2 linked regions of the Homo sapiens genome follow. The protein of the gene in region 2 interacts with the protein of the main gene of each other region in a biochemical or structural test. Each region holds a gene or a part of one and is shown on either strand. Other genes may lie near its edges.

Region 1 (4,892 bases), on a different chromosome or scaffold from region 2:
CTAGCAAATCTAACAGGTTCTCACTTAAGAGACGCTGGCCTCAGAGACAGTTGCAGCAGATTAGGGGCCTTAGCTACTAAGAGTCATGCACCACGGACCACGTTCCTCAGCCCTAAGTATTAATACATCAAGCCCAAAACCGGGAACTGCCCCCACTTCTGGATTCTGGATTTCCACTCTGTTTGCATCTACTACTTCCTTTTTTTTTTTGCCCTCTAATATGCTGGTGAATGCTATTAGTCCCATGTGATTAAATTTAAGAGTATATATAATATGAGTAGAATGACCCCATAAAATTTCAAGAAGTAGGTTAGGCAGCCAAAACTCAAGTTAATTAAGATAATACTACATACAAGGGGATGGTCTTGTTTTCTGGGAAAACTACATATCCAGAAATATCTTTTTAAATTCTATTCATTTTAACAAATGATGATGGTCCTAAAATGTCCATAGCTAACATCTGCACATGGCTTAAATTCATTATTGAAGATGGTAAGAAAAAAAATTTTTAATTATCTCTAATAAAACACAAGGATAATCTATGACAAGTAACTTTGAAATAGCAAGCCAATATTGATGCTCAGTGAGAAATGGATAGGATTCATTTTCTAGGAAAATGACTGTCTCCTTTCCCCTCCCCACAAAGAACAAGACTACATTATTACAAATGAGAAAAATGTTTATTAAGAAAACAATTTAGCAGCTCTCCTTTAGAATTTTACAGACTAAAGCACAACCCGAAGGCAATTACAGTTTCAATCATTAACACACTACTTAAGGTGCTTGCTTACTCTACAACTGGAAAGTTGCTGAAGTTTGTGACATGCCACTGTAAATGTAAGTATTATTAAAAATTACAAATTGTTTGGTGATTATTTTGATGACCTCTTGAGCAGCAGCTCCTGAAAGGAAAAAGGAGAAAAGCAAATCTTTGAAAGAGTAAACTTCAAGAGTTACATACTCAATTCTGTAAAGAAACTTTTCCTTTTCAAAAGCAAAGGTGTTTTAAAGTGACCCAAAACAGATGCAGTTAGCTTACTGAGTCATATCAACATAAAAGCCTATAATTCTTTTTGTTATTAAAGGAAATCTAAACAGTAGTGTGGTTGACCAAACTTTAAAGGATACACACAGGCATAAAAGATTCTCAAAGGACACCCTACTGCTGCATTTGAATTTTACCTTGTATCTGTTTTATAATAAAAAAGGAGAAAGGTATATTTGTTCTGAATGCATTTGTAATTTAGGAAGGATCTATATTAAATATCGCCAGACCGCTATATTTACTCAAAACAAAAAAACTACTAAGAAAAAAACTTGTGCATCTTCTATAACCTGAAGATTCCTCTTTCCCAAATATTCATGGACTGGATAGAATTTTTTTTTTTTTTTAGACTAGAGTCTCACTCTGTCACCCAGGCTGGAGTGCAGTGGCGTGATCTCGGCTCACTGCAACCTCCTCCTCCCAAGTTCAAGTGATTCTCTTGCCTCAGCCTCCCAAGTAGCTGGGATTACAGATGCCTGCCACCACACCTGGATAATTTTTTTGTATTTTTAGTAGAGATGGAGTTTCACCATGTTGGCCAGGATGGTTTTGAACTCCTGACCTCAAGTGATCCGCCCACCTCAGCCTCCCAAAGCGGAGGCCTTACAAGCATTAGCCACCGCGCTCAGCCGACTGGATAGAATTTGAGACTACTGTGCACCAAATACTGTTCTAGGCAGTAGGGATACAGTAAGGAAAAAAGACAAGAAGATCCACTTACCCTCATGCTACTTTTTAGCAGCAAGAGAGAGAGAATTTATTTACAAATAAATAGAATGTGTAGTATGTCAACTGACCATAGGTGCTAAGGAGAAAAAGCAAATAAGGGAGATATAAATACAAGAGAAGGGGTTTGTATTTTAAATAGGAGAGTCAGGGATGGCATCGCAGAGAAGACAGCATTTGAATAAAACCTGAAGGAAGTGAAGGGATATAATGGCACTGTGCAAAATGATTACAGAATGCACAGAAGTAAAAAACAAAAAAAAAAAAACAAAGAAAACCTTCAATTTATACTTTTTTCTGCTATAGTTAAGTCATCCAGTCCATCCATCTGGCTGTACCTCTTCTTAGATTCTGGACTGCATCTGAATAAATAATAATTTGCCCTTTTCTGTGAATTGGCAGAAAATTTTGCTACTTTGGCACAAGAGACTACTTGGTTTTAGTTTAAAATAAATTATTCTGAATCAGGCTTTAATTTGGATTTGCTTAGAAAATAGTTTTCTTAGGTCTGTATGATGCATTTACATTTTGAACACTTCAAATATTAATTAGACCTAAATCTGCCTTTAAAACATTCAACATCTAGAAGGAAAATGCCACAAGCTAATAGCTCAGTCTACAGGAGATCACAGGACAGTAATTTTTTTTGAGGGGTGTTATGGACTGAATGGTTCGTTTCCCCCTCAAATTCATATGTTGAAATCCTAACCCCCAGTGTAATTGTATGAGGATAGGGCCTTTGGTAGGTGATTAGGTCAAGAGCGTAGAACCTTCATGAATAGGATTAGTGCCCTAAGAAGAGACCCCAGAGACTTCTCTTGCCATTTTTTTTTTCACCATGTGAGAACACAGAAGAGAGAGCTGCCTATGAACCAGGAAATGGGCGCTCACCAGACCTGACCATGCTGGCACCCTGATCCCAGACTTCTAGCCTCCAGAACTCTGTGACAAATTTTTATTGTTTATAAGTCTATGATATTCTGTTACAGCAGCCCAAACTGACTAAGACAAGGGGGAAGTAGAGTGAGGGAGGGAAGTAAAGGGAGCTTTTATGAAAGACATGTCATTTTTGAGTTGGGTCTTGAAGAACATATAGGTTTTGGACATGCAGAAAAACATATTTTTAAGGCAAATAGGCACAGAGGAGCAAAGATCTAGGAGCAGGAAATCAAAGGGCATCCTGGGGGGAAAGCAAGTAATATGATAAAACCAAGGCTGGAAAGGCCGAGTGGAACCAAAACACAGGGTTTTTTAACGTCAAGCCAAAGTCCTTGGACTTGCTTGGAGGACTGTTGTAGAGTGTTATGTATATTGGTGGGGCAGAGGGTTAGTAAAAGGACACAATCAGAGCTATGCTTTAGAAGGATTAATGACTCTTAAGGAGTTTAAGTTGGATGGCAGTGGGAGAGATGGAAGGCAGGGAGACCAGTATAGGGGCAACTGAATAAATATCCTAACCTGAGCAACATAGTGGGACCCTGTCTCTACAAAAAATTGAAAAATTAGCCAGGCTTACTGGCACATGCCTGTAGTCCCAGCTATTCAGGAGGCGGAGGCGAGAGATCACTTGAGCCCAGGAGTTTGAGGTTGCAGCGAGCTATGATGGCATCAATACACTCCAACCTGGGCAAAACAGTGAGACTGCGTCTCAAAAAAAAAAAAAAGAAAGAAATATAACATCCTGCTTCACTGACCTCCCTAATTAAAATAGCTAGACGACAAAACTTTGTATTAAAATAGTAACTGTACTATGTAACAACAGGTGAGTCTTCTCATATATGGAACTCACCCCCCAAGAATGCAGCAATGGTATGTGGCTCAGCAGCTCCATATCGGCAACTAAAGGAGACCACAGAGACATGAATTTTGATTAGCCTTATGACAGGTGTGGAATCATCTCCTAGATACCCTAAAAAATACTCACAATTCGTGGACATAATCATCTTTCACCATTACAGATAAACCATATTCCTGAAGGAAGCCAGTGAGACAAGACTTCAACTTTCCTATATCTTCTTCAACTTGATAGTTAGATACTCCTAAAAATAAAAGTTAGTTTTCATTAAAATAAATGTGATTCAAAATTAATGGCCAACTCCTTTATTTAATCTAGTTTCAGATGTTCTAGTCAAAATATGTATGAAACTGAAGAACAAAAATAACAAAGTATGAGACCAATATTTGCACATATCACAAACCTATAATCAGAGACCAACTAAAACCTAGTAAAAATTTGAATTTAATTAAATCTTTATTAATTGCATCATATTCACTGTCTAGAAAAGCATCTGGCACATAGTGCTTAATAATTATTTGATAGAAGAACTTAATGAATGAGAAAGTAATGTCCTACTTATACCCTTTATAAAAGTTATTCTCCAATTCTAAAAGACTAAATGATAAATGACACTGAGGACATAAAGCTATTAATAATAGGTAACTTTTTTTTTTTCTTTTGAGAGAGAGTCTTGCTGTTACCTAGGCTGGAGTGCAGTGGTGCAGTCTCGGCTCACCGCAACCTCTGCCTGCCGGGTTCAAATGATTCTCATGCCTCAGCCTCCCAAGAAACTGAGACTACAGGAGTGCGCCACCACACACAGCTAATTTTTTCTATTTTTAGTTTCAGTGTTGGCTAGGCTGGTCTCGAACTCCTGGCCTCAAGTGATCCACCCGCCTTGGCCTCCCAAAGTGCTGGGATTACAGGTGTGAGCCACCATGCCTGGCCAATAATAGGTCACATTTATTGAGCATTAATAGATGCTGGACACTGTTCTAAGGACCTTATATCTATATTAATTGATTGAATCCTCAAAACAGTCCTATGAAGTATGTATAGTTATCTCCATTTATAGAAGAGAAAACTAAAGCACAGAGAGATTAAGTTACTTAGCTCATAAGTGATGCTGTATGACTTCCAAAGCTAGGTCATAAAAAGCCCTGTACCTTCCACTTGGGTTTTTTGGAATGTTAACTGCAGAAGCCAACTGACATGCCAAAAGGAAGTCCAAGCTAGCCACGTGAAGAGATACCTGACCAGCCGCCAGCTATTCCCACTGTTCTGACTAAGGTGCTAGTTACATGAGTAAAAATGTCTTCTTGCATGTCTAACTCAGTCAGTCAA
Region 2 (7,942 bases):
TACCTATATAGGATGAAAAACTTTCAGCTGAGTAATTAAAGTTGTTAAATTGATATAGCCCTTGGGCACCCAACAGAGTTTCTAATTTCAGTGATCCATTTCCATACAATATGTGCTTCATTTTCACACTGTGTGATTGTTTTTGGTAGTCTCTTGTTCTTTGCTCATGTTTTTGAGTACTTCTTTTATTTTAAAAATTATCTTAAGCATTTTAAAAATATGTGATTATTCTAATACTTTTGGAGGATCTAATTCTATTATCATTTCCCCTAAGTCTCACTCAAGGTGGCTTGTTTCCTCATGGGTTTTTAAATTTTGAGTTTGGCACTTACTATTTTGGTAACCTTAATCTGTGAAAAATCCTAAAAGACCAATGTGGAAAGTCTGCTTCTTTTGTAATATGACGTTCTGGGTAAAGTATATGAAGAAAGACATATGTAGGTGGAAAAGGAAAAATAATTTTAAAAGCCGTTTCGGATAATTGTGGATATTCTTTGATACTACCTCAAAACTCTGACAAGTGGTAGCTTCTTCAAGGTTATTTCTAACTCAGAAACTATAGCAATGAATTTTTTGTACTGTCAGAATAAATCTATTAATGTATCTTAAGCTTTGAATGGCTCTTTCACCAATACCTGATTTCATAACATCATGCATTGGTCACCTGGAAAACACTGGTTCACTGAGTTACGCAGATTATCCAAATACTATCAAAAAAAAATCCACGTTTGTTAATATCACCACTCATCTCATCACAGATATCTTTAAGGACTGTGAAGCTGCCAAGCTCACAGCAAAAGATACGAGTCTTCCCAAATTCTAAAATTTCCCCAAAGTTTGAATTTTATTATTGGCCACAAATACTAACCGTTGTTTTCTTAAAGTGACAAACTCACTTCATTCATTTTCCAGATTAACAAATTTCTATGAAACATGTGCTACTAACAAGACCAGTCATTAAGTAAAAATCCCACTCCGGAAAGGTTTTCAATTGCACTTCACAATGGAGTTATCCAAAATGGATAGGGGTGACAGTGTGTCTCATTTCCCCATATACAAAAAATGGGTAAAATTAGATCATCTTTAAATTATTTTTCAGCTGACATAGGACTCAGTAATTCACACAATTAACTAACTGATATATGTGTGTTCTTGGAAAATTAGAAAAAAATATCCAAACTAACTTAAATCAACTAACTCGTATATTCGGAAAATATCTTAAAGTACAAAACAATAATCAAGACAACATAAACAATACACAAGACAGTAGTTAGTAGCATCGGAAAGCTGCCGCGATCAAAGTTTACTTTAGTTAACTAGATCCTGTCTTAACTACCGATGGATGATTTTCACTGCAGTTCCAGGCTAACGTGGCAGAGGGAGGGGTTTGGGTGTGGTGGTTTTTTTTTTTCTCCAAATTAGTTGTATGCTTCCTTCTAAAGGGAAGGATATTTTTTAAAATGGCAAGTTAAGAAAAGACAAAGGAACCACACCTAATTTTATTTGTGGAGTGGAAGGTGGGTGGAGGGAGACAGAATATGCAATCGGTGTTCTGACACCAATCATGAAGAAAAAAGTTAAGCCCGTGGTGATATTTCAAAATGAAAGGCTATTTATTAAAATCGGTCAGGCTCAAACCAGCGAAGAGGACAGATGGCAAAGTGGCTGAATTTGCGGCAGCTATGCCCCAATGAATTATTTCCGAGATAGGGTTCCACCCTCTGTAGCTAAGGCAAATTATTGCATCAGGCGCCCATGCAGGAGAAACCCGTTTGGTGTTTACTACTAAGTCATGATCTCCGGGGTCCTACTGCAAGCTCTGGCTCTCCCTAATTGCATATGGGAATCATCTGAAATAATCTTTTCCTTGATATCTCTAAATTCTAAACTCTATGGCAGTGCCCTAGGAAAAGGAGGTCTATATTAAATCACCAAGTCCTTCAGCCCATGAAACCTTCCCTCACCTTCGGGAAAATCAAATGTCAAAATATTCCATACTAAGGATGGCTGACTTCACTCCGCAACACTTAGTTTCCCAGGTTTACGATCTGAGGGCTCACTGGTTCCAAACGGCCTTTTCAGAAGCCAGAAAAGATGACAAGAGCAAAGGATGATGAGTTCACAGCATTAATAGAAAAGTTCGACACCTCCCCACATCCACATTTCAATTCTATTTTCTCAGCCAATCATTCCGCTAAACTAAGCACTGAATGAAGGAAGATGTTAAGGGGGAAACACTATCAAAGCATCCTAAAGATTAAAGGGCCTGGCCGTAAGACGAAAGAACCGGCAGTTTTTCGGCTCATCATTGACCACTGAAAGAATTAGGAGGCTTTCCACCCAGGGTGCACAAAGAGTACAGCAGAGCCTGGAAAACTGAAGTTAAGGTTATTCAGTTAGGAGGCGAGGACAACCAAAGGGTCACAGATCCCAGCCCCACTGGAAATAGAGGAGACGCGGGCTGTGACAGAATGGGGAAGGGAGAACGGAGCCGGAGAGGGACGCAGGAAGTCGGAGGGGTTCCAGGGAGTCATCCAAAAAGAGAGGAGGACGGAGGTCCGCGGGAGAGGAGGTGGCTGACGCACGGGGGACTTGGGACCAAAGTGGGGGAGGCGAAGAAGACGCCAGAGGATGAAGGGAAAGAAAGGGGTAACCGAAGAGGAGGACAGTTCCCCGGGGAGGAGGGAAGGATGACCAGAAGAAGGCCCTGGGAGGAGAGCCGGAGGCTTAGCGGAGAGCGCAAAACACCGGTACCTGCTGGCGCACTGCTAGCCTCAGAGGTGCCAGCACCTCCTCAGCCCCCGCGCCGTCCATGCTGCTCCGGGAGGCGGCGGCGGGCAAGGAGATCGGGGGGCAGGAGGCCGCGCTGAGGGACCGGCGGAGCAGGAGCGAGGGTCGGGCTAAGAGCCGGGGCGGCAGCAGCAGCAGCAGAGCGGCGCGAGCACCTCTAAGCAGCACTGGACGCGGAGAGGGCATGAGCCTGCGGCCCTGGGCTGTCCAGAGAGGGTGGCGACGGAAGCGGCGCGCGCCGCCCGGCTCGGAGCATGATGAAATCGCCGCGTAAACGACGCGGCGCGCGTGCTGCCGCACATTCACCACCGCGTGACGCGGCGCCGGGTCGCCGCCGCAGATTCGACACAAAACCCGGAAGGACCCCGCCGAAGGTTTTCTCCGGTTCGGGAGAGAGGTAGGTAGGGTTGCGAGCGAACAGATTTGCACAGAAGTGCGTCAAGCCACCCCAGCAGGGTGGATGTTCAGGGACACAGCTCTGAGCGAGACCTGCAGGCCGAGACACACGAGAACCTTCAAAGCATAGGTTTTTATACGAGTGACACCCCGGCCGACCTACTTGAACGGACACTTCTGTTTCTGTTCTTTCGCGCCCTGCGCCTTAAAAGGGTCGCAAAACATCAAATCAGATAGGGATCTTAGACTTCTGTTGCTCAAGTGCAGATGTTCCCCAGATAAGGAAATAGGCCCAGAGAGGTTAATGATTTGCCCAGAGTCACACATTCTTGGTCCGCCGATGTCAAGACAAAAGCTGGCGAACGGGGGAGGAGGAGTGAGGGGATAGAGTCACCCCAGGCTTTCTGGAGAAGGTAAATTCCAATCTGCCCTTGCGGGGCGAGCAGGATTTGAACCGGCAGAGATGAGGAAAGGCAAGAGGTGCCTGATAAGTCTTTCTGCTTGGCATAGCCTCAGTCTATCTGCCTCCTGTGGTTAGGCCCCAGCTGACCAACCACCCAGAGATGGCTTCCCCCCGCCCCACACACCCAGTTCCTCCTGCCCAAAGGGTGGAGGGCCTAGAAAAGCTGGGTTCCCCCTCCAGGAAAGGAAGAGAAAAATGATGTGTTGGTTATAAAAACAGCATTGCGCACACCTGCAAAAATGGCTAAAATGAAAATGATGGAAAATGCCAAGTGACCCTCTGAGACTCCCCTACACTGCTCAGGGGAGTGTTAACTGGTGCAGCCAGCCACTTGGGAGCTCTTCGGCAGTATGCACGTACGTCTCCCTGTGACCCACAATCCCACCCCAGGAGTGTGCAGGAGTAGACGGGCTCAGTATAATGAAGTCTCCTTTCCTAATGGTGTGAAAGTCCATGTTATTTCTCTTCCCGTTCCAGTGTGCAGTTCTGGAGAAGTACTTACAATTCAACATGAGCAGGGTGGGTTGCTTAAGAACCTTCTGCAATATTGAACAATTATATTTTTAAACACTTTTATTTCAAGATTTGATATTAATTATAATTTATTTGGCTTTTATTTTACTAGGCAATTTTGAATTTATTTTAATATCTTTAAATGTGAAAAATCATTTTAAGTTTTACTTTTATTTTTATTTAGATTTTTATTAAAATGTTGAAATTCTATATCCTTTGAATAAAACTATTTTATTTCTAAAAAATTCCTTAGATCAATAATGTCTCATCCATTTTCATGTTAGGACAGTCCTGAAAGGACTCCAAATCCGTTCTTCCCTCCTCCCCGACCAATTCATCCTCCCCACTGCTGCTTCAGTCATTCTTTCTTTCTTTTTTCTTTTTCTTTTTTTTTCCAGACGGAGTCTCGCTCTTTCACCCAGGCTGGAGTGCAGTGGCGTGATCTTGGCTCACTGCAACCTCCGCCTCCCGGGTTCAGGCGATTCTCCTGCCTCAGCCTCCTGAGTAGCTGGGATTACAGGCGTGCGCCACCACACCCAGCTAATTTTTTTATTTTTAGTAGAGACGAGGTTTCACCATGTTGGTCATGCTGGTCTCGAACTCCTGACCTCGTGATCCGCCCGCCTCAGCCTTCCAAAGTGCTGGGATTACAGGTGTGAGCCACTGCACTCGGCCCAGTCATTATTTCTGAAAGGCAAATCTGACTGTGTCCCTTCTCTTCTCAGGACACTTCAGTAGGCTCTTCATGGCCCTTGGAAGAATTTCCCAAACAGTTTTCTTTTGAAAACTGTGTCTGCACAATAATGATAATAGTTTATGTTTGTTGAGCACTCACTATGTACCAGTTAGTTCTAATTTATCTCATGGAATTTATTCACCAATTTAGTGAGATAGGTTCTATAGTTATTCAGAATTTTCACATGTGGGATTCAAGGGACTGAGATATCAAACAGCTTGTCCATGGTCACACAACTAAGTGAGTGTTGGGCCAGAATGTGAGCTGGGGGCAGAGGCAGATTTTCTACATAGCTAATGAAGCTTCAAGTGAGTTTAGCCCCTTTCTCTGTTGGGCTCTTTAAGTGCCCTGCAAGAGGCCCTAGTATTGTGTATGTATGATCATATATTTTTCTTGCTTTATTAAAGTTCATTTCTTTGAGGGAAATAAATTTTGCATACATTAAAATGAACAAAAATGTATAGTTCAATGGGTTTCGACAAAGCAATATCCTTTTGTAACCCCAACACCAAGCAAGATAAAGAACATTTTCCCCTGACTCCACAAAGTTCCCTTGCATGTCATCCCGGTCATCCCACCCTCCACAACCAGGCGATCACTATTCTCATTTATTTTCCTCTTAGATCTAGACTGTTGTATAAATGAAATAATGTAATATGTACTCTGTGTCTGATGTCTTTAATTGACCATAATGTGTGAGAGATTAATCCATATTGTTTCACATATCAGAAACTTGCCCTTTTTTGCTCTGAAGTATCCCATTGTGTGAATATACTATAATTTATTAATTTATTCACTAGTTGATAGACATTTGGGTTGTTTCATATTGTAGACCATTATGAATAATGCTGCTGTGAACATTCTCATACATCTTTTTTTGTAGCTATATGTTTTCATTTCTCTTGGGTAAATATCTAGGTGCGGAATTACTGAGTCAAACAATAGATGCATATTTAATTTTATTAGATTGTCACAAGTTTTTCCAATGTGGTCGTATTATTTTATGTTCTTAAGAGCAATATATAAGAGTTCTAGTTGCTCCACATCCTTGTTAACATTTGATGTTGCCGGCCTTCCAGATTTTAGCTATTCTAATAGTTGTATCTCATTGTGACTTGTATGCATTTTCCTGGTGATTAATAGAGTTGATTGTGTTTTCATGTGCTTAGTGGTCATTTGTACCTCTTCTTTTGTGAAACATCCACATTTTTTGTCTTTGCTTTTTAATATTGAATTATAGGAGATTTAGATATGCTGGATACAGTCCTTTGCTAGGTACATGTTTCATAAATATTTTCTTCCAGTCTGTGGCTTGCCTGTTTGTTAATGATGGTTTTGATAAGCAGAAATTTTTAATTTTGATGAAGTCTAATTTATCAATTTGTTTTTTTTCTGGGTTCTAAAAAATCTTTGCCTACTCTCAGATATTCACCCATATTTTTGTCCAAAATTTTAGTAGTTTTATGTTTAGGTCTATGATGCATCTTGAATTAACTTTTGTGTATAGTTTTAGGTAAGAGTCAAAGTTCATTCTTCCCATATAGATATCCAGTTGCTACAGCATCATTTGTTGGAAAAAAGTAGGGCTTACAAAAAATTACTGCCATTGATCAGCTCTAGTGCCTTTGTCAAAAATAAGTTCACCATATAAGGTGGACCTATATCTGGGGTCTCTATTCTGTTCTAATGATCCATTTATCTATCAATCTTTATGCTAGTATCACACTTCCTTGATGACTATTGCTTGAGGATAATTCCTGAAGTCAAATAATGTATATTGTCTACCCTTTCTTCTTTTTCAAAATTGTTTTTCTATTCCAGGTTCTTTCTATTTCTATATAAATTTTAGAATTGACTTATCAACTTTGTAAAAATACCTGCTGGAATTGTGAACCTGTAGTTTAATTTGGGGAGAATTCATAGTTTAAAGCACTGAATGCATTTTGATAAATATATTCCTAAGTATTTTATTCTTTGAGTCTTGTGAATGTTATTTTATTTTCCATTGATTTGCTGTTAATGTAGAGAAATATAATTGATTTTGTATAGTGACATTGAGACTTTCACTTATTAGTGCTATTATTTGTTTTGTAGGGGCGGGGGTTGTAGATTCCTTAGGATTTTCTTTTTTTTTTGAGACGGAGTCTCGCTCTGTCGCCCAGGCCGGACTGCGGACTGCAGTGGCGCAATCTCGGCTCACTGCAAGCTCCGCTTCCCGGGTTCACGCCATTCTCCTGCCTCAGCCTCCCGAGTAGCTGGGACTACAGGCGCCCGCCACCGCGCCCGGCTAATTTTTTGTATTTTTAGTAGAGACGGGGTTTCACCTTGTTAGCCAGGATGGTCTCGATCTCCTGACCTCATGATCCACCCGCCTCGGCCTCCCAAAGTGCTGGGATTACAGGCGTGAGCCACCGCGCCCGGCCGATTCCTTAGGATTTTCTGTATTAATATGCATATACTTTGTAAATAGAATCAGTTTTACTTCTTTCTTTCCAATATTTATGCCTTTTTCTTTTACTTGTGTGGTTGCGTAGTCTAGGTCATCTTGCACAATATTGAATAGAAGCAGTGAATGAACATCTTGCCTTGTTCCTGATATTAGAGGGAAAAGTGTTCAATGTTTCTCCATTTAGTGTAATGCTAACAAATTCAACTTGGTTTTGTCTTTCTTATATTCTGCTGGATTTTATTTACTAACATCTTGATAAAGATTTTTGCCTGTATGTTCATGAAAAATGAACATACAGGCAATCAGTGTATTGTTTTCTTTTCTTGTATCTTTGCCAGGTTTTGGCCTGGCTTTATAAAATCAGAGTTTCTTTCTTCTCTATTTTCTGAAATTTCAATATTTGTAAGATTGTTATCATTTCTTCCATAACCATTTGATAGAATTCACCAGTGAATTCTGGAGTTTTCTTTGTGGAAAAGTTTTTTTGCAGTTGCAGAGCCATCCATGCTTTCTATTTCATCTTTTGCCACTTTTGGTAAGTTTTGTTTTTCAGGGAATCTGGCCATTTCATATAAGTTATCAGATTTATTGTTTT

What was found.
Region 1: the proteins of GARS1 (region 2) and NAE1 form a complex in vitro, tested with the Homo sapiens proteins (one study listed by BioGRID).

What each region holds. Positions count from the first base shown.
Region 1 is NC_000016.10:66,802,217-66,807,108, forward strand, and holds the end of NAE1 (NEDD8-activating enzyme E1 regulatory subunit), read right to left. Parts: intron 3,811-4,892; coding exon 3,696-3,810; intron 3,611-3,695; coding exon 3,561-3,610; intron 903-3,560; coding exon 793-902; 3' UTR 662-792; downstream 1-661. UniProt on the Homo sapiens protein: Regulatory subunit of the dimeric UBA3-NAE1 E1 enzyme. E1 activates NEDD8 by first adenylating its C-terminal glycine residue with ATP, thereafter linking this residue to the side chain of the catalytic cysteine, yielding a NEDD8-UBA3 thioester and free AMP.
Region 2 is NC_000007.14:30,589,956-30,597,897, reverse strand, and holds the start of GARS1 (glycine--tRNA ligase isoform 1 precursor), read right to left. Parts: upstream 3,021-7,942; 5' UTR 2,977-3,020; coding exon 2,755-2,976; intron 1-2,754. UniProt on the Homo sapiens protein: Catalyzes the ATP-dependent ligation of glycine to the 3'-end of its cognate tRNA, via the formation of an aminoacyl-adenylate intermediate (Gly-AMP).